Homo sapiens: one gene and its partners. The protein of the gene in region 3 interacts with the protein of the main gene of each other region in a pairwise test. Each region holds a gene or a part of one and is shown on either strand. Other genes may lie near its edges.

Region 1 (7,107 bases), 3.7 Mb from region 3:
TATTTTCCTTAAAATCTAATTTGGGTCATTTACAAATGTGGAAGCAAAAGCTGAGACATTAGGTAACTTGCTTAAGGTTAACTAAGGACTGAAATAGACTCCGGAGAGCTAGAACAGTGGTTCTCAATCCCAGCCGCATATTAGAATCCTCTAGGAGAGAGAAAGTTGGGGGAGGAGTAAAAGGGACATGGGAAAAAGAATGGGAAGGAGGGAAAAGGAAGAAAGTGAGAGAGGCAGAGATGAGGGGAAAAAAAAACAGAAAAAAAGAGAATAATTTCCATTTCACTCTAATGTGCTAACAGAGTCACTGAGGTTCCTCAATTCCAAGTATAACTGCAACAGTTTTAGGTGGGAAATTTTTCCAAGTAATTCTAACCAGATGCTCAACCCTGCCATAAAAATCCTCAGTAAACAAGCCTTTGAACAATGCAACTCACAGGAACATTGTCAAAATTAACCACTTGGAAAATATACACCTAGACAAAGAAGTGGTATTGTTAAAACTTAGATCAAGACACTGATATTAAACCTTTGAATAATCTATTTTATTCAGAAAAAAAATCCAAACTCCTTGCATTTGTAACAAGGCACTAAATACTCTGACTCTTATCTCCGTAGCTCTAACCTAGTTTCATACCAACTTTTCCAATCCTCAATACGTACCAGTCCCACTATTTCTGAACATCCCAGGTTCCTTCCTGCTTTGGGAACTCTGTACTTGTTCTTCTCTCAGTTCTTCACATGGTTCTTCCTAATTCTCTACTTTTCATCTTAAATCTTAAAGATTACCTCCTCAAAGATGGTTTCCCAACCTACTCTGTTTAAATGAGACTTCCCTTGTTATTCATTATCACGGCATCCAGTGTATTTTATTCACAGTACTTAGAACACAACTGCAGGTCTCTCTCCACTAGAATGTGAGTCCTCTAAGGGAAAGGATCTTATCCTCCAGGTCCATAGATGAATCCCAAGTGCCTAAAATAATCTTGGGCCTACAGAAGACAATGAACTAAGTGGGGAGGGAAGGAGGAAGGGAGAGGGACAAACTTAGATGCTAGTAGATGGTCAACAAATATTATTAATGAATTTATTTGCATTGTGGGAAAATTCAATTGTGTAAACCAATTACACACTGAACACACACAGTAAAAAATGGTGATTTTGATTTTAGAAAAATTGATTATAGCAGTAATCAAACAATGAATCCATTTGTCTTTTCTAATAACATCTCCAGTTCACATTAATAAAACCACAATAATGGAAAAAATCCCACAATTTAATGTAAATTTTAAAATAGAATACAAACTTGTATCAACTTTTATACAATAAATAAGTTTTAAAAAGACTAGACAGAAATATATCAAAATTTTAACAAGTTATCTCTGGACAGTTTGACATATTTTCTTTTTTGCATCTTATTTTTCAAATTCTCTACAATGAGCATATTTTTACTTTTATGACCACAACAAAATTAAATAAAAAGAATAATTGCCACACTGCTCTAAAGCTAGCCATAACCATGATTGAAGAATAATTGTCGATACTGTACATTACTACATAATTTTAACTCATTAAAAAATTGTTTTGAATGACAGTCATTAAAGCCTACTTGTCATGGTGAATTTTTATTTTACTAGTTCTCTGTCACTATCACGCATTGCCACTTTTTTTTCTTTTTTGAGACAGAGTCTCGCTCTGTCGCCCAGGGTGGAGTGCAGTGGCGTGATATCGGCTCACTGCAAGCTCCACCTCCCGGGTTCACGCCATTCTCCTGCCTCAGCCTCCCGAGTAGCTGGGACTACAGGCGCCCGCCACCACGCCCAGCTAATTTTTTGTATTTTTAGTATAGATGGGGTTTCACCACGTTAGCCAGGATGGTCTCGATCTCCTGACCTCGTGATCCACCTGTCTTGGCCTCCCAAACTGCTGGGATTACAGGTGTAAGCCACCTCACGTGGCCGCCACTTTTTTCTTTTAATCTTGGGCAGTAGTTTAGCATGGCAGAAACACCTTCCTTGCACTCAAACTTCTAAATCCCAGCTCTGTCATTACGTAGTTGTGTAACTGTTTTCATCTTGTACATTAGAATAATACCACCAATTAAAGATATTCTGGTATATGGTAGGGTCTAAATAAAGAGTAGTAATTATTATCCATGGGAATACATTACCTACTAGCTAGATTATAAGCACTTTGAGAGACTGTGATTGCCTTGTATCCACTGTGTCCGTAGTCTAGCACTGAGTCAGCATGCCATAATTTTCAACATATTGTCATATCAATTACTATCTTCACTACCTTTTTCAGGGAGACCCATCTTAGGATTGTAGAAGGAGTATTACCTCTCTCCTGCTATTTTATTTTTATTTTATAGAGATGAGGGCTAACTATGCTGCCCAGGCTAGTCTCAAACTCCTGGGCTCAAGCAGTCCTCTCACCTTAGCCTCCCAAAGTGCTGGGATTAAAGACATGAGCCACTGCGCCTGACCCTCCTAGTTATTTTAATGGTAAGTTAGAATAACTCTTAAAAGCCAGAGAAAGTCAAATATTAAATCATATAGCTCTACACTCTCCTATGGCAACAGTAAATAAATGAGTAAATAAGACAATTTTAGATAGGGTAAATAATGTTATTACCTATTCAGGTCCATATTTCTAAATCACATGCTAAGCTGCTATTTTAGACATTACCTACTAATTTCCTGTTGTAATAGACGAAGATGTTTACTACACTTACACTATCTTCCCACTATATTTCATCCCAATTTTTGGTTAAACTGGCTGTAGTTCTGCATTATGATTAGGGAAATACTGCTTACTGTAAAGCCAAGAAATTTACTGTGATAATGTCTCCTTTTTTATAAAAAGTTTCGCTTTTCCTGTTGTGTCCCTATCCTTCGTTTTTTACATTAGATGCTATTTATACTCATCAACAGATTTTTCTTCCAAATGCTTAACATATCTATTGAGTCTACTTTTATCTGGAAACCTCCTTTTTGTAGAGACAGGGTCTTGCTTTGTTGCTCAGGCTGGTCCTAAACTCCTAGATTCAAGCAATCCTCCCATGTCCGTCTCTGGACTAGCTGGAATTACAGGCATATGCGACTGTGCCTTGCCTATCTTTTGTTTTTTTGTTTGTTTGTTTTAAAACAAGTTTTTCTTCTTAAATGTGAACAAATATTTTAATTTAAAAATATTTTTGTTGTTTTTGTTTTAAAGGAAGCTTGTATTAATCAATAAAATATCCAGAAACAATGTCTGTGAAACAAGTGCTTTTATCCACATTTGGCAAAAGAGCCAATAATAAAAACACCAATCTATAAGCAACAGCTAAAAAGAAAAGCAGCTGATTTAATTTCTCACTCTATTGTTCAAATTAGCATTTTAAACCATTGCACCTTAATTAAAGCCACTCTTTTAGGTACAATAATCACAGGCAAAGCAACTACTATGTAGGGTAACTATAAATGATCAAAACAGGACACTTTTGAAAATGAATGGAGCACTATTAATAATTATGCCAGGGCAATATGCATAATCTAAGCAAACCAGCCATTCCACTACTAATAACCTCCTAGATGCTGAGCTTTTAAACTTACAAGGTGTTACCAATCCCATGAAGTTCCCCCCTTAAGACACACACCCTACTATGCTAGTGCCTAATATAAAGATCACTACAGTGAAAATAGAAGATGAAAAAAATTAGCAAACACAGAATAAAAAGTTTTTAAGATATTGATTCTTCCTACCCCGCCCCCCAACAAGCACACACACAATTCATTTAGAAATTCACATATTTTCTGCTTGAAGGAAATAGTAATTCCCATATTTAAAAATAGATAGAACTGAATAAGCTGGTAGAATTTTCTTTCTCTTACTTGGAATTACTCAATTAAAGAAATAAAGAAAGGGTGAAAAATGATTAGAAAGAAAAGAGAATGAACTGCAGTTTTCTACCTAAAGTAGTTAAGACATGAGAGAAGAAATCACTCAATGCCCTTACCCATCCCAGAGTCTTTCTTGGTGCCATCTGATATTATGTCTACATGATCAGAGTCCACATCATAACTAAAGAAATCATTCAAATAGGTCTTTGATCGCTGGCCACCAAATACATATAAGCAACGATTTTTCTGAAAAAGAAGAAAAAAAAAAAGAAAGGAGTAACTTATCACTTCCATGAAGAACTCAGAATGATCCTTTAAAAACTTAAACCTCTACAAAAGTAATTTTATAACAGATCCCAATGGAGTACTATGCTGGAATAAAAGGGAAAGAGGAAGCTCTCTACATATTGCTAAAAGGGGATCTCTAGGACATCCTGTTAAAGAAGAAAAGCAAGGTGCAGAATAATATATACAGGTTCCTTCTTCCTTTGTGTAGGAATGGAGAAGAAGGAATATCTGTGCATCAGACAAAAAGAGAGGGAGAGAGGGAAAGAGAATGTGAGAGAGGGGAAAAGTGAGAGAGAGAGCACGCAAGCGAGAGCGAGAATAGAGATTGCTTCTTTTTTTGAAAAACAAAGGAAGGATAAACCAAAACCTAATAAAAGACAGTTACCTATAGTGGCAGGAACAGAGCAGGAAGACCTCTCCAAAAATAATACCTTGATGTATGGTTTTGACTTTAGAACAATGTATATGCTTTTATTTAATTAGAAGACAAAATTAACTCAAAAAAAAAATCTAAAATTTGGGCAAAAAAAATCCAACAAATAAACCTATCTGTATATAAAGATATACTCAGACACAGAAATAGTATTTCTAATGATTTTAATACATACTTTTTGACTACCCATCCCTAGAAGTCTAAATCCTAAACAGAAAAATAATCAGAAAGCAACGTTAAACAGCACTCAGTGATTCTGTTGTTAGTTTTCTTTACTGTGAAAGCTATTATAGACAGACAAAGCAACTAATGTTATGAAGCAGGATTTTAACCTTAAAAGACACAAAAATAGGCCAGGCATGGTGGCTCACACCTGTAGTCCTAGCATTTGGGCAGGCCAAGGTGAGAGGATTGCTTGAGACAGCCTGGGCAACACAGCAAGGCCCTGTCTCCTACTTCCACTTCCACTTCCACTTCTACTACTACTACTACTACTACTACTACTACTACTACTACTACTACTACTACTACTACTTCTTCTACTACTACTACTACTACTACTACTACTACTACTACTACTCAAAACCCAGGTGTGGTGGTACACACCTGTAGTTTTAGCTACTTGGGGGGCTAAGGTGAGAGGATCATTTGAGCCCTGACATTCAAGGCTGTAGTGAGCTACGATCTGCGCTCCAGTCGGGGTAAAAAGAAAAGATATAAAGTTACAAAATAGAAGACATTAAGATAAAAAATATTTTATTTGAATCAGACATATCAGTATGAATTCACAATTTAATTTTTCTCTTACAAAAAAAGATACATAAATATGTTGTGGGGGGTGCTCCTACTAGCCAAAGAGAAAAATTTGAGCATCAAGAAAGTGGCCAGGTACAGTGGCTCATGCCTGTAATCCCAACACCGCAGAAGGCAGAGGCGGGTGGATCACCTGAGGTCAGGAGTTCAAGACCAGCCTGGCCAACATGGTGAAACCCTGTCTTTACTAAATACAAAAAATTAGCCGGGCGTGGTGGTGCATGCCTGTAATCCCAGCTACTTGGGAGGCTGGGACTACAGGCACAGGTCACCACGCCAGGCTAATTTTTGTATTTTTACTGGGGATGGGGTTTCGCCATGTTGGCCAGGCTCGTCTCAAACTTCTGGAATCAAGTGATCCACTGCTCCTGACCATTGCTGATACATTTAAATTCTAATTCTATAAAATCAAATCTTAAATTCTTTGTACTTAATGGAGAATAGCAGAAGGGAAAATAAGAACAGAGTAAGAAATTGTCCTTCTAATTACTAAGAGACGTAAGTGGAAAGGCATAAGAAAGGAACATAGCTACAAAATCTACATAAGCAGTGAAATTAGTCATAAGATTGCCCAGGTTGGTAGCCAGGTAGTAACTATTTAGGAATTACCAGGTTGATGGGAAGAGTCTCATAATTAGCAAACAGTTCACTGTTAAAGAAGTTTTGTCTTTCTCTGTCATTGCTACACTAATCTCTTCCTAAAGAATTAGATTTCACCACTTCTTTTCCTATCTAGATATACATGACAAAATAACATTTACGCAATGTACGGAATGTTCTTACTGAGTGGAATAACATGCAGTGTCCTATTCGAGACTGGATGTCCTCAGGCCCAGCATTACAGGAGTCCTCTCGAAGAAGTTTCCAGGTTTGACATTGACAGTTGAAAGCAAACAAGCCACTGAATTGTGGTTCACTGGCTCTGCTGTCATCTACGCTGCCATTACAAGTCAAAATTCTACCACCAAAAGTGTAGATCATATGTTTTTCTGAGTCCATACACATCTATCAGAACAAGGCAACAGATTGAATAGTTTTAGTTTGTTCCTGTCATATGTGCTAAAACAAAACCAACATGTACAGTTTTACATTCTCAAAAAAACCCTAAACTTTGTCCCTAATGACACTAAATACCACCCCTGATTATCATATGCAAGTTTCTAAATAATTTTTCAAGTTGTCATTTTTGTCAGTGAGGGTAAAAACATGTTGGAATAAAGAGCTTTCTGCTTTCTTGAAATTGCATAATTTTTATCAAAATCAACCAATGATACATGAGGCGTTGATTTATATGTAAGAGTGAATACTTATATTCTGGGTGAATAGTGATCATACCCTCCTTATAAAAATTCCCTTCTTTCATTCTAGGCAAGCATCCTATTAATATTACTACCATTTACTAAGCGATCAGATATGCAAATAAGAGTGGTGAAGCTAAATTCACCTCTCTGCATTTATTTTTATAAAACCCTTCAGATTATGTTACAAAACAGTAAAACAAACAAACAAAAGGACATTTACAACAATCAAGTCTCCAGACTGACTTCTACAATGTGAAGAACTCTGCCTACTTTTAACATAGCACTATTTAATTTTCTTTGAATTAAGCTATACACTTCATGTTTAAAAGTCAAGCTTTATTCTTCCATTCTTTCAACTCAAGATTATAACTTTTCATAAAAATGT
Region 2 (7,107 bases), on a different chromosome or scaffold from region 3:
ATACCTACAATATGCTAAGAAACTAAATTATAGAGCAGCATTCCTTTTAGGAAGTATTTAAATTGTCCCTAGATGGATGTAATGAAATGTGTTCAATTACATCTAGGTTCTAAAAGTCTTGATATTTATTTTCTTAGAATAATCAGTCAGATACACACCTCTTCTCATTTTCTCCCCTTTGTTTCTCTATTTACAGTAAGCTCTGACTTCCAGATTTGATTTTGACCTCAAAATGCCAGTAATCTGCCCCCACACACAGTGCTTTCAGGGAGGAAACAAACAGTCCAAAGCCTTGTGTATAACAGTCACACTGTTACTTTTATTTCCACATCTGGCAATGACAGCTCCAGAACAATGTGGAAAAGCAATCCACAGAGGGGAAAAAGAAATTTTCTATACAAAGTCTAAATTCTTCTGAAAGATGAAACAAACACTAAAACAATTTATTTAATGATAAACATTTAAGCTTTTAAATAAAAAAAATACTCAATATAACACTTACTCAATCAAGAGAAGCTATTGTGCTAACTTTGACCTCTACCTCCCCCTAGTCCCTCAAAAAAAGCTATGGAGTTAAAAAAAACTTCTACTCAGATAACCAAATTTATTTATCAAATGGTAAATAAAAATGTTATGGATCGGGTAAACATTACTTTCACATTTGGAGAACATATGAAGTTTTATTTGCATTTAGTTCATTTTTTAATAAAATAACTGATTCTATATGAAGTATGTAATTTGAATTTCACATAAGACTTTTTAAATTGGTAGATATTATTTTTTCTGTTTTACAGAACTGAGTAGAAAATGCACAAAACTCCTCTTTCCCTACTTCCAACCTCCTCCACACTTTCTCTTATTAATATCTGTATTAATAATATTATTAGAAAATATAACATCAAGTATTATTAGTATTGGTGTGGTTTATTTGTAACAACTGATGAGTGAATATTGATACATTATTATTAGCTAAAGTCCATAATTTACATTAGGGTTTATTCATTGTGTTACATAGTTCACGGGTTTTGACAAATATATCATGACATGTATCTACCATTACAGTATCATACACAATTGTTTCATTGCCCTAAAAATTCCTTGTGCTTCACCTACTCATTCTTTCCTCCCCCAGAACCCATAGCAACCACTGTTCTTTTTACTGTCTCCATAGTTTTGCCTTTTGATAGTATTATATAGTTGGAATTATACAGTATGTAGCCTTTTCAGACTGGTTTCCTTCACTCAGCAATATGCATCTAAGGTTCTTCCATGTCTTTTGGTAGCTTGATAGCTCATTTCTTTTTATTGCTAAATAGTACTCCACAGTATGGCTGTACCACAGCTTTTTTAATCCATTTACCTACTGAAGGACATCTTAGTTGTTTCCAAGCTTTGGCAATTATAAATAAACTCATAGGTTCTTGTCGGGATGTAAGTTTCTAACTCATTAAAACTCAATAAAATTTAATTCATTATAACTCATTTGGGTAAATACCAAGGGGCACAATTGCGGGATCATATAGTAAGACTATTTAAGGTAATATTTTTTAGTTAAGAGCTTTGTGAGAAACCACTGAACTGTCTTCCAAAGTGACTATACCATTTTGCATTCCCACCAGCAGCAGATGGGGGTTCTTGTTACTCCACATCCTCACCAACATTTGGGCTTGACAGTGTTCTGGATTTTGGCCGTTCTAATAGGTATCTAGTGGTATCTCCTTGCTGTTTTAATTTGCAATTCTTTAATGACATATGTTGTTGAGCATCTTTTCACATGCTTATTTGCCATCTCTATTATCTTCTTTGGGGAAGTACCTGTTCAGATCCTTTGCCCATTTTTCAATTGGATTGTTTGCTTTCCCATTGTTGAGCTTTAAGAGTTACCTGTATATTTGTAAACCAGTCCTTTATTGTTTTGCTAATATTTTCTCCCAGTCTGTGGTTTGTTTTTCATTCTTAAGATATTAACATTTTAAACCAAGGATATATTGTATAGAAATCCATTCTCATTATTTGGGGTGGTATCATAACTATTGCAACTTTAAGTGTTTTCAAGTATTTTACAGTAAAAACAAAAACAAGTCACAGGAAAAGTAAATGTTTTTAGACTGGAGATCTTAATTAGGCTAGTTTAAAGAGACTAACTAAATGAACGACTATAAATTAAGATCCCAGAAATTTCCAAAATGACAATGTAATCAACAGATGTTGGAGTCTTAACAATATAGACCCAATGTTTTATCACTCAGTTGTCCTCCACAGAACAAGACAATCCACCTATAAAGGAATCGTATTATTTGGGGGTGTTAACAGCAAGGAACCTTGGATCTTAACTTTCCTCAACTTGGTCAGTCAGGCCTAGAAAGATGAACATGACCCTTGTGTGACTTCAGCAGCACCAAGCTGGATTCCTGTCTTTTTTTCCACCCTCCACAGTAAGTGGCTCTGCGGCATTTCTCAAGAGAAAGAAAAGTGAAGATTTTCATCAGGTGAATGATTGCAACTTGTGACTAACCCCTTGAATGATAGTTGAGGTCAAAACTCTGACACTCAAGAGAAAGAGGTGGGGTCATAAGTGTAGCTTTGAGGCTATAAAGATTATAGCAGGCATTCTGTTCAGAGTCCTTGCACCTGCAGGCTGACCTGTGACAAGACAAGCTAAACAAAGATCTTTTATCACCTGAATTCAAAAGGTAAATGCAACTCAATTCTTAGAGTTCTTAAACCCATAGGCAATGATTCTATGATAAGCCTGTAAGTCTGCATTACCAAATCAATATATGACCAGATGATGCTGTTAGTCAAATGATTTAACATAGTCCTAAAAATATATCCCTAGCTTATTACTATCCATCTGTTTGGCTGGTGCTCTCTCACAAACCAAGTAAATTACCTGCATCATTCACATATAAAAATACTACCCAGCCTCCAGCAACAATTTATGCTTACCTTTTCCCTCCTAAAAATTAAAATAAAATTAAATTTAATCATTCTCTTAATCAGACACTATTATTCCTAGGGAGATTAACTTTAAAAGTATATTTTACAAGTATATATTAATGAATATATAAAAAATATAAAATGCAGAGTTATAAAACTTAATTTCAAGACTGGCAATTTTTTAGTGAAGAGTCACAGGGAATAAAATTTAAATGAGTAGCAATGACTAATGCAGTTTTCAGAGGAGGCTATAATTTCTGGAAATGTTCTACTGGTTTAAACTGTGGGATAGTAAGTGCTCAGTTCTAAACCGGACTTTTTATATATTTTAATTTAAAAATAATTAAAGTCAATGAAATGGATGACAAAAATTTGCTACCTTAGGAAATATCATTAGATTTGAATTATTTGTTGTGGTAATAAATCACATGATATCCTCATTAATATAAACATTTATTTTTTAAAAGCAAGTTTTTAATGCAATAGTCTTTATGTATGTATGTATATTCCTACCTTCTATTTTATTTCATTGATTTTAGAGGTCCCAAGCAAACTAAACCATGATGAACTTATCTAGATCAATTGCTAAAAGTATTTCTATAAAAAAAAAACAAAAACTGCTTTGAACTACTTCCTTTTTATTCTTTTTATGTCAAAAAGAACTTACCTTTTAAAAACTATAACAAAGTTGAGTTTTGTTCTGTAAAAATCTGTGAATCTACAAATAAAGATTCTTGATAGACACTAAGGGGTTAAACAAACTCTGTTGTTGCAAGGAGGCAGGAAGCTGTCAGCATTTCATGCTGCTGCCACAGGCAATGCCCAAGGCCTGGGTCAAGGTTGGAGAACTTAGCCTTACTTTTCCCACCCTTCCCTCGGTAACACATTACCAAGAGCAGCACAGCTACAGGTCAATTTTCCTGTGTATGACAAATGACTATTTGCAACTTTACGATCTAGTTCTGCAAGTAAAAACAACATGCAGAAAATTCTAGACATACAGACCTTGCCCATCTTAAACTCTTCAAGAAATTCCTTTCTCTAATTCCAAGGTAAGGCCTTTCCTTACCCCCCTGTTTTGCATTAGCTTTTATATTTCTGGTAGGTTATTTCCTTAAACATCTGAAGACAAGCTATTATCTATGTGGTAACAGCACACGCATTTTAAGAGGGCATAAGTCCAATATATCAATAAGGAAAATTTGAAGTATATTTGAAGCAACTACTACAGAGGACCTATCGAGTGCACACCATCTGTATTCGGGGTTCATAGTGACCTAGTAAATGCTGATACAATTGCACCACTTGTCCATAGCCACCATCTCTTCTGAATGACTGAGCACCTGTTCTGATTAGTTGGTGTCTCTGTCATACCACTGAATAAATATTTTGTGTATCATGTCTGTATGCAACCTGAAAGAGGAGCACTTACCTTCATTTTTCCACTGTATTTAGGGTCAGAAAGTGTTTCAAAGGCTGCATCTTTGCTTTTCTGCACAAAATCTGGGAATCTGGAAAATACCTGATCACATATCCTTTTGATAAGTGTTTCCTTGAAGGGAAAAGGCAGAAGAAAAGATATTTCCACTTAACACATTCAAACCTGTATAAATTGAAATAATTTATGAAAAAAATTCTTTTTAGAAAGAATGTATTACTTTAAAGATTTTTGCTTCCCTAAGTCAGACTAAGAATTCAAAAACTCTTAAAGTTATATGTTAAACGTATGGCACTGAATTCTTAATGATGTGGTTATTAACTTGATCATTACTTTTCAATTTTTTAAGATTTCCAAAACAAGGTGCTAAATACTCCCAAAGAGTAAAGAGTACTATCAAAGAACAATATCAAATTCTTATGAGATTTCAAAATTACATTTAAATGGCATCAACTATAACAGAAAAAAATATAAAATCATTACAAAAACATCTTTTCATTTATGTGTGCTCTAGAATAAAAGGAAACAACCAAAGTAAACTTTGAAATTACTGATTTTTGCCAGTTTGGTAAACAGCCCTAATATTTAATATACAAATTATTATAAATCCTCATTTTACCCAGTAGATTAAATACCATTACAGACATTATTAGAGGAATAGAACTGACCCATCAAATATGTTATTTAGTAATTATACCAAAGACTGTTTTGAAAAATAAAGATATGAACATTATTAAAGGCATAAAAGATAGTTCTTATTTTAAATTAAGCTTAAATTTGTTCACTTTGATTAAAAACTTAAGTGCACATACTCCTTGATATCTACATTTAAAAATAAGCAAATCAGTTTCCTCTTAAATTTCATCCACAAAAACTTTATTTAATAACTATTTTAAAACTTTATAAAATATTCACAACAATAGCATCACAAAGAAATGTAAAATGCTAACCAAACCTGTTGTTTGGAAGTACTAGCAGCTTGCAGTAGCGCGACATGGTTAGCTACCTTCTGAAGGACTGTAAGGTAACTGAGATACAAGGTTTTCACTGTTTCACCATGAGAATTGGTCTGTAACCAGAAAAATATAGAAAATAAAAAGGACCAGCATAGCTATGCACCTGCTTACATCATAAAATGTATCACTTACAATAACATTTATTATCGGGTTACTTTGGCACAATAAATTCCAAGAAAATGATGGTCAACTATTGCACAAAATATCCACAAATAGCTAATGTGGAAGCATACTTTTGGTAAATCATAATACAACTATATTTTTCATAAAGGGAGAAAATCCTTATTACAGAAAGTATTTATCCTCATGACACACAGTGATGGAAATGTTGCTGTTACGAGGTGCCTGGTAACAAAATCTAAGTGCAGTGGCAGTGCTATGCAGACCCCTTCTCATTTATGCTCCAAGGCTCCTAGGAAACTGGGCTATTACAAAAAAGGGAAGTAGTTAAAAACAGCAAAATAAATGAGACCAAATAAATATCAAACTAGATAAATATTCACTTAGGGTTTCTCTACGTACACAGATATGTGACATAATTTAATAAAACAGAGGTGAAACATGAGCAGGAAATATAAACAAAAGGTTAGAAAAAGTACAAATAAATTTTGTTTCTTTAAAAAAAACACTTTCTTTGATACTCAGTTTCTATTAAATTGACACTATATCTAACATCAGAATAGTATTTTAAGCCTCCTATACAAGAGTATGTTCGTTTACTATTAGTGGATAATGAGAAACTTCTTGAAAATGAAATGAAATTTCAAAATGAAAGGATACTTCCCAAGAAAAGCTAAAATGGAGGATATCAAAATTAAGCTTACTTTCTGCAATTAACTTTTTGAAAATATATTTGAATATTGTATTTTATATGTGATTACTATTTGATATTGTAAAATATTTTTGAAAACTATTTTTTAAGACATAGCTTTAAAGAACTGTCTGAGGAAAAGGTATTTTATCATCTGCTACTTTCTTTTACACTAGAAGAGAGTACTATGTAATCAAAAGCATGATTATAAAGATATATTGAAATGCTTGCCTTATAACAACAATTTCTCCTTTTTTGGCCACTCCTACAGGTACAAGGCTCAGAAGATTGAAGTATCAAAGTCACGTCCTCTGTTTCTAACACTGTTTGATAGACAGCTTTCTGGAAATCTGTCAAAGAACAATACACCATCTGCCAAGATAAAATACAAGGTAGTTATTAGTATTTTGTTTATAACAATAATAAAAATCATAATCTACATCTGATTTCATAGATTATAACAGTGAAAACTGGCCGGGCGCAGAGGCTCACGCCTGTAATCCCAATACTTTGGGAAGCCAAGGAGGGCGGATCACAAGGTCAAGAGATAAAGACCATCCTGGCCAACATGGTGAAACCTCATCTCTACTAAAAATACAAAAATTAGCTGGGCGTGGTGCCACGCGCCTGTAGTCCCAGCTACTCAGGAGGCTGAGGCAGGAGAATCGCTTGAACCAAGGAGTCAGAGGTTGCAGTGAGCTGAGATCACGCCACTGCACTACAGCCTGGGCGACAGAGCGAGACTCTGTCTCAAAAAAAATAGTGAAAATTGCTATAAACTAATTTTTCCCTCTATTTACATCATTATGATGATTTCTACTGACTGTCTTATATTCTTTGCTCTCCACCCCACCCTGGATAATATAAAGTATAATTTCACTTTCAAATAAACCTCATAGAAT
Region 3 (8,040 bases):
TTTTTGACAGATGTACTTATTTTCTGCTGTGTAACTTTTTTCTCAATCTAGAGAACCGCATTCTATCCCATGCTGTTTACTATTAATAGCGGCACAAGCATCAAATTTTAAGGTTACATTTTTGGGGACCCCTCTTTCTTCTGTTCTAGCTATTACCTTACTTGTGTCACCTAGAAAAGGACCAGTCCTTAATTTTATTTTAAAAACTGTGATCATGGGAGGCTTAAAATGGGTCATAACGCGCATCAGGTTGGTTATTTCCTGGGCTACATACCTTGGATAGAATAGCATTATACAAACAAGTTTCTTTTAGAGTCCTGGTACACTTATAATAACCATAAAATAATAGGACTGTAGCAATCTTTTGTCCTACCTTAGTGACTTGATGTATATACTGGAAACAGTTCTCAGTCTGAGGAAGGTCAGTTGAAGTCCTTACCGTTCAAGTCCAAATTTTAAGGAAAATGAGTCTGTGATGAGTTTCCTCATGTTTCAGCCGTGCGTGGACCAGTCAGCTTCCAGGTGTGACTGGAGCAGGGCTTGTCGTCTTCTTCAGAGTCACTTTGCAGGGGTTGGCGAAGCTGCTCCCATCCATGTACAGCTCCCAGCCTACTGATGTTTAAGGGTGGTCTCGGTGGTTGGGCCTACTAGAATAAACTGAGTCCAGATATGGTTAACTGGGCTCTCTGATACCAGGAGGAAGGTGGCAGGGTTTAGGGTGTGCAAACGTCAATGGTTATGTGGGGATTTTCACAGAGCTAGCTTTGGCATCTAGTTAGTCTAGCATTCATCTAGCATGGTGTCCTTTGGTATTTATTAAAATCACCACAGCATGGGGGGAGTTTATGTTTAGGTTTTGTGTAAGAGTTAGCTTATCTGCTTCTTGTGACAGGGCCGTTGCTACCAGGGCCCTTGGACATGGGGGCCAGCCTTTGGAAACCCCATCTAGTTGTTTTGAGAGATAGGCCACTGGCCTTGGCCAGGGCCCTACAGTCTGGGTTAAAACTCTAACTGCCATTTTTTTTGTTTCTGACACATAGAGCGTAAAGAGTTTTGTCAGGTCAGGTAGCCTCAGGGCTGGGGCCGACATGAGTTTTTCTTTTTAACTCATGAAAAGCTCGTTGCTGTTGGTTGTAATAGATGTAGTTTATCTAATCTACATTTTTATTGACTGTCATCTACCAAAATATTGACTTAAATCCTGTAACTATTTGATTTCAAGCTTTAAATTGATCTGGGACTCCTTGCGGGGCTTCAATTGCATCTAAATAGATGTGAGAGTTGAAAGACCTATAAGGAGCTTTTCTCGCTTTATGATGTCTTCTTCTTATTATTATTTTTTCCTCTTGTTGATGAAATGTCAGGGTGAAAGGGATAGCCAAATGGACTAAAGCACAAGTGCCACTCTAGTTACTCGGCAGAGTCCCCAATAAAGGTCTACCACAATACCACCACACATCCGCTTTGGGATGAACAAGGGCTGACTGATTGATAAGCTCTTGAAAATTCTTAAGCTCACTGCATCCCTTCAGGTCTCCAAGGAATGCTAAGTCTCCTCCCTGCCATGAGAGACACGTAGTGAACTTAGTGTTGGGAGATGGAAGCTGGATGGCCCTCGGGGGCTGACCTGCAGGGACTTTGGGATATAGCAGAGAGAGCTTGGCATGACTTATTACTCCAGGCTATAGAATCCTGGAAAAGAGCTACCATGCAGCCCATGCCTGGCCGACTGGAGGACCACCTTAGTGGAAGGGGGACAATCAGGGCCTCTGGCCTGCCATGTGCACAAGCATGCTAATTGCTTTTGTTTAACCTGCAGATGGAATATTTGATCCATTTCAACCAGGCATTTGCATCTTGGTATGCTGTCTTAATTGCCAAAGTTTGTTTTAAGTCTTTAACTTTTATGATCCTCTAGTAAAATGAATGCTTCCTTTAGCACCAATTTTTATTAGTTTTTAGACAAAAGAAAGCTAAACACTATTTTATATTTACTAATGCTTCCTGTATGACTTTTATACCAGATAAGCTAAATTTTACCTTTATATTAGTGTGTTATTAATGTTAAACTTAATTTTAATAAAACCTTGTAGACATATTTATCCAATTTTTTATGTTTGACCATAAGGTAAGATTTTATAGACTCTTTTTAACCTTTTATAATTTTTGTTAAAGAGCAGGTTGATGCTTTAAGAAAAACCTCTTGCATTTTTACTTTAATGTCCAGTTCACAGAAAAACTGGATGATACCTTTTTAACCTTAGCTAATATGTTTACACACAGAATTTTTTTTATAATTAACGTTTTAAAGCTTGCTTAAACTTTTAAAACAATAATTTTTTTAACCTTTTAATGTAGGTAAAAATCCACGTTTATGCCCCTTTATAATTTTTTTTTTTACCAAAGGTATATTTTACTTTTCTTATACATCTTGCACATGAACTGGTTTTTTTTTTTTAAATAGTACTCAGGAGGCCTCATTACTTTTAAATTATACAATATTTTTTGCATAAAAATTTTTTTTTATAATTTTTTTCTCACGACTTTCCCAGACAATTTTTTAACATGTCTCAATTTTTTGACTGATTAACAAACTTTTTTTTCTTTAAACAACCAGTTAATTTATTTCAGGACAAGAATTTACCATATAACTTTTTTTTAATATAAATTCTGCCTCCCCCCTTTTCTTTCCTTTTTAAAAAAGCGAACTTTCTTTATGTCTTTGGACTAGACTGTCTAAGGCCACAAGATTAGAAGTTACCAAAATACATGTTACACTGTTAACTTTTAGCAAACTTCACTTTTGTTGAAAACCTTGTAAGTTTGAGATTTCAATTATCCTTTGCTATTAATAAGAACTTGTTTAGTCTAAACTCTTAGAATTGGTACAGATGGCCTCTTTTTCTCTTTTCTGGTCGTTCCTTGGCTCTGCCAGCCGCTTATGCTGCTGTTCTCTTAACTACTGTGGTGGGGGAAAGGGGGTCTAAAACCAGCTGTAACTGTCTATGTACAGAAACCGGTCTGGGTGCTTTGGCTTACAGGTTACCTTGTGCCATACCTTTGAAACAAGGGACCTGTCCAGGCTTCCTTCTGGTGGCCAACCTACCTCTAATGCTAGCCAGTCTATTTCACACAAAGTTCTAAGTTTTCCTGGTGTCATACTAACACCGTAATCTCCTTTAAATTCTCTCTTGAAAAAAAATTTTTTTAACATAGGTCCCAGTGGGGTGGGCTTACTTTGCACCTGACCCATGTTTTTTTTTTTTTTTTTCCAGACAAAATACCACGCTCACACCACACATACCACAAGACAAAGAACAGGTAAAGAGGGCACACACACTTTTACCGTTTATACCAAACCAAAATCACGAAATTCAAAATCCGAGTACCAAAAAATTCAAGCCAAGTCAAAACCAAAACCAAAGTATCCAGCAATTCAAGTCAAGTCAAAACCAGAACAAGAGTGCCCATGCAGGCATGCTGTGGGTGATCAGGCCACGTTTCCACTCAGATGGAGTGGGGCAAGTTCCAAAGACTAGTCTTACCAAGTCAAGCCAAGTCAAAACCAGAACAAAAGTGCCAATACAGGCACACCGTGGGTGATCAGGCCACGCTTCCACTCACGTGGAGTGGGGCAAGTTCCAAAGACTAGTCTTACCAAGTCAAGCCAAGTCAAAACCAGAACAAAGATGTCAATACAGGCACACCGTGGGTGATCAGGCCATGCTTCCACTCACATGGAGTGGGGCAAGTTCCAAAAACTAGTCTTGACAAGCTTCAGATGTCTGGACTTCAAGTGCCAGTTCCTTCCCGGTGTTCAGCCAGTGTTAATCCTTCTCGGGAGCCTGCTATGCGCTGCTCTGGCAAGGCATTCCACCGGGGCCATTTCCTACCCGGGAGCGCTCTTTGGATTGCGTCAGTCAGGCTGGCCGGAGTCCTCTGCAGGGACGCTCCACAGGGCTTGTCAGTCACCTCGCTTCCTGGTCAGGGAACCAAGGACTGTAGCAGGACAAGCCACAGACAAAACCTCTCAGACACGGAGCTGTAGAAGAAAGGGCTTTATTCAGCTGGGAGCATTGGCAAGCTACTGCCTTAAAATCCGAGCTCCCCGAGTGCACAATTTCTGTCGCTTTTAAGAGCTCACAACACTAAAATTTCACATGAAAGGGTCGTGATTGATTTGAGCAAGCAAGGGGTACGTGACAGGGGCTGCATGCACCGATGGTCAGGGAGAAACAGAACAGGGCAGGGAGTTTCACAATGTTCTTCTATAGAATGTCTGGAATCTATGAATAACATCGGTTTCTAAGTCATGAGTTGATTTTTAACTACTAGGTTTAGGCCAGGCAGGCCCAGGTCCAGTTTTGGGCCTGGCGCTGGGCTGCCTGTCTTTGATTTCACTTCCTTTTTTTTTTAAAAAAAAAAAAAAAAACAGGTACTGAGTATAAAACAATATGAGAGGGTCTCTCTCTTCCCTCGCTTTAACTTTCGGAGGGCTGAAATTCTTTCTAGCCTTGGTTAATACAGCAATTCATTCCATTCTAGCTATTGTTATTTCTCTTACTATAATTTTACTATTAGTACTTACGCTATTCTATTATTTTCTTAATTTTCCACTTAATTAGGATAACAAACCGAGGCCGGGCTCCCATCCTCCTCAAGCACACGAGGGGGGCCTGGCCCAGCAGGGAGCTTCGCCTGGTTTCTGAGGGAATTCCCGGCGGGCCTTTCCAAAACATGCCCGTTCCCTTCCGCTAACTTCAGGGGCCAAGAATTGAACTTTCACCCTCCTCAAGCCGGTGGCGCTGCCTCGCTGGCGTTCCCAGCGCGCAGCCAACCGGATGCCAGCCGGCGGCATTACCACTGCCAGCATGGGGCGCCCGCGGACCTCCGACTGAGGCAGCTGCCGGGAGCCGGAAGTGTCCCGGGCGCCGGGACTGCGAGGGGGCCGGGAGTTCCCCAAGACCGGAAGTGTCCCGAGGCCGGGAGCCCGCGGGACCCCGGAGCGCGCGGGGCCGGAAGAGGCGGGCGGCCAGTGGAGGTCCGCAGAGTTTGGGCGCCAGGCGAGACGGCAGGGCTTAAAGTTCCGGGTGAGGCGTGGGTCCCACAACCGCTTGGAATTTGCCTCCCGGCTCCGCTCTGGAAGCTAAGAAGGGGCACGAGAGCCGGAGACGGGAACCTGAGAGCAGGGAAGCCAGTAGCCGGCCGGAGGAGCGCGCGGCCGCTCCAGTCGGAAGGAGCCGTTGCAGCCCTGCCCGGCGTGTGGCGGGGTCAGCGAGGCCCCTGCGGTGCTTCGCCCGCGCCTTCCGCTCCGCACTCACCCGCCCTCTGGGCCTCCCACAGGTCGGCGCCGCCAGCGGCGGGTACCGGCCCGCAGAGGGAGGGCGGGCTGTGAACTGGCAGCACATCGCGTTCCCGCGGGGCCCCCATTCTGCCCAGGCAGGGAGCGGCTGGGATGGGACTGAGGTCGGTCCGCGAGCGCGGTGCCCCAGAGACCCGGCTTCTGGAAGTTGCCGCGGCCTGCTCTTGGGGCCCAGAAGTAGGGCGGGGAGGCGCGGGGTCTGGAGTCTGCAGGACCTGGCTGCGAATCCAACCAGCTGATTTCAAACTTTTCTGTGATCTTCTGCAAGTTAACTAAGTCTCAGTTCCTCGTTTGCGAAATGTACTTAATAGGCACCCCAGGGTGAACTAAATTTGTCCGCACAGACTGCAGCATTGCGCTTGGGAGGCGCCTTAGGGGGTAGGAGTCACTAATATCACTGAGTTTTGACAGAAATGAAGGTGCATTGGCAAAGGTGTGCCCCATGGCCGGGCAGGTTAGGAGGAGGGCCTGGTAATATTTTTTCTTAAATTGTAAACAGCCATCTGGATGAGCAATGCATTATCAAATTATGATTCAGAGAGGACTATCGCTGACTACTCTTTTTTTTGGGCAAACCTCCGCTTCAGGAGCTTCTGGCTTGATTCCTAAGTGGAAGGTAGAGACCTAGGCCCTCTGAGTCACAACTCCATCTCTCTGGGTGAGGACTGAGCTCCAGGACTGCTGAGTGGAGGCAGAACAATTGGGATAGGGAAAAGAGAGGCCAAACTAGATCAGAGGCTGGCGTGGGCTTCAGAATCTACAGACTGGCACAGTTAATGCCTCCGGGCCCCTATTGCTGCTTCAAGTTTGACCAATCAGAAGTATCTTTAGCTTAAGGGCGGCGTGTTGGCCAATGAGACTTTATTGTGAAATAAAATGCCCTCAGTTTCATTTAACTGAGCCACCATAGAAGAGTAGAGAAATCGAGTTGGCCAGATGAGGGAGAGGCCATTAAGAGGTATTTTAGGGATTGAATGGGCTGGGCACCCAGAGGACAGTGGCATTTGGGGTGGTAATGAGAAGGAACATTAGGGGCCTCCGCCTCCTTCCGTTCCTCCTGTGCTGAGTCAGTCAGCACAGAGGCTGCAGGAGGTATCTCTGGTTGGCTTTGGCTGCCTGTAGGGGGCACCAGCTTTGGGGAGGTCAGAGGGCTCTCTCCTGAGCTGCTGTCCTGCCCACAATCACACCTGCCTGATGCCTGTGAATGGCCGTCTGAGTCTCTTGGGCCTTGGTCACTTCTGGCCTGCCCTGCACCGACCAGTAACTGTGCCTGATGACTGGAGGTATGGGAATTCACCGGACTTTATTGTTCTTTGTAGGAATCAAAGATCAACTCCCACTGAGGACAAATGGACCTGTAATTCCGGGTGTGACGAGAGAACGAGATTTACCTTCCTGAATTAAAAAACAGGTCATTAAGCTTGGGCCCTGACTCTTCTTTGTGAGAAGGTACAGAGATGGAAACCTTACAATCCGAGACTAAAACGAGGGTCCTTCCCTCATGGCTGACAGCCCAGGTGGCTACAAAGAATGTGGCACCAATGAAGGCCCCCAAGAGGATGAGAATGGCAGCAGTGCCAGTGGCAGCAGCAAGGTGCGACAGCTCTGGTCAGAAGACTCCTGCGAATCTGGCAAGTGGAGCAGGGGCCTCCATGACCTGGGCCAGGTCTTCCAGCCTAGGCAGAACAGCAAGATGGGCGGGTGTTTCAGTCTGATCATCTCTTGAGCTTTTAGAAGGTGGAGGGGCTGTGGGCGGGAGGCAAAGCGGGTTAACCCTCGAGGACAGGCACCCACTTCTGCCTCTGCACTGGTGAGTGCCCTGCCCTCAGCACACACAGAGTGGGTTCTCCATGTCAGCCAGTCTCTGATGCCAGTTGTCCAGAATGCCAGTCTCTTCCTTTACAACAAACATGGTAACATCAGATGGGCAAGATCAGTGGAAGGGTCTGTTCTGAGTGGTGCCTGCCCCTGTGGACAGACCTTTAGGGATGGACAGATGAGCAGCAGCTGCAGGGCCAGCAAGAGCTAAGGAGCTGGGGAGTGAGTTAGTTGAATGACGGTAATTGCCGGGGGGGGGCGGGGGGGGGGTGGTGAGTCTCCAGGCTGCACTGTGAAGTGGGCGGGGCCCCAGCACTCGGTGTTTCCCTCTCTGGCTCCTCCTCCTCTAAGGTTTCCTGACTGACAGCCTTCCCTTGTGACTGCTGCCGTCTTTCCCTAAGTCTGGTCCTGCTTTCAGGTTCCTCTCAGTACAGCCTCAGCCCGAGGTTCCCTTCCTCTTGCATCCATGTGTGTGTTTCAGAGGCGGCCATCCTTCCCTACTTCCAGATCCTTGTAGGGCAGTTGGTGGAGGGTGGGAGGCACCCCGGTGTTGCCTCCATGAAGCCCTGTGCCAGTCACTGGGCTGCAAGGCTGAGGAAATTGTGTCCGTGTCAGAAAGCTCCTCAGCTCAGAGGTGCTGGTACCTCCTGCGTGGTAGGAAGGCAGGGGGAAGAGGCCCTGCTTCTCCTGTTCTCTTTGCCCTTATGAGACTTGAGAGTCTGTGTCATCTGTGCCTTGCATGTCTTTTTTTCAGACTCCCTGCGACAAGGACTGTGTACTGCATGAATGAGGCTGAGATAGTTGATGTTGCTCTGGGAATCCTGATTGAGGTAAAGTCAGACAAGCCTCTTACTCATGAC

Evidence for each region.
Region 1: the proteins of CYREN (region 3) and MKLN1 interact in binary tests that used the Homo sapiens proteins (3 or more experiments, as listed by UniProt).
Region 2: the proteins of CYREN (region 3) and ERCC6L2 interact in binary tests that used the Homo sapiens proteins (3 or more experiments, as listed by UniProt).

The regions. Positions count from the first base shown.
Region 1 is NC_000007.14:131,442,800-131,449,906, reverse strand, and holds part of MKLN1 (muskelin), read right to left. Parts: intron 6,427-7,107; coding exon 6,205-6,426; intron 4,134-6,204; coding exon 4,004-4,133; intron 1-4,003. UniProt on the Homo sapiens protein: Component of the CTLH E3 ubiquitin-protein ligase complex that selectively accepts ubiquitin from UBE2H and mediates ubiquitination and subsequent proteasomal degradation of the transcription factor HBP1.
Region 2 is NC_000009.12:95,920,645-95,927,751, reverse strand, and holds part of ERCC6L2 (DNA excision repair protein ERCC-6-like 2), read right to left. Parts: intron 6,578-7,107; coding exon 6,437-6,577; intron 5,448-6,436; coding exon 5,334-5,447; intron 4,493-5,333; coding exon 4,373-4,492; intron 1-4,372. UniProt on the Homo sapiens protein: Promotes double-strand break (DSB) end-joining and facilitates programmed recombination by controlling how DNA ends are joined in a spatially oriented manner during repair.
Region 3 is NC_000007.14:135,167,702-135,175,741, reverse strand, and holds the start of CYREN (cell cycle regulator of non-homologous end joining), read left to right. Parts: upstream 1-5,034; 5' UTR 5,035-5,090; exon of another isoform or gene 5,091-5,466; intron 5,467-6,267; exon of another isoform or gene 6,268-6,320; intron 6,321-6,681; 5' UTR 6,682-6,819; coding exon 6,820-6,956; coding exon of another isoform or gene 6,957-6,993; intron 6,994-7,934; coding exon 7,935-8,010; exon of another isoform or gene 8,011-8,040. UniProt on the Homo sapiens protein: Cell-cycle-specific regulator of classical non-homologous end joining (NHEJ) of DNA double-strand break (DSB) repair, which can act both as an activator or inhibitor of NHEJ, depending on the cell cycle phase.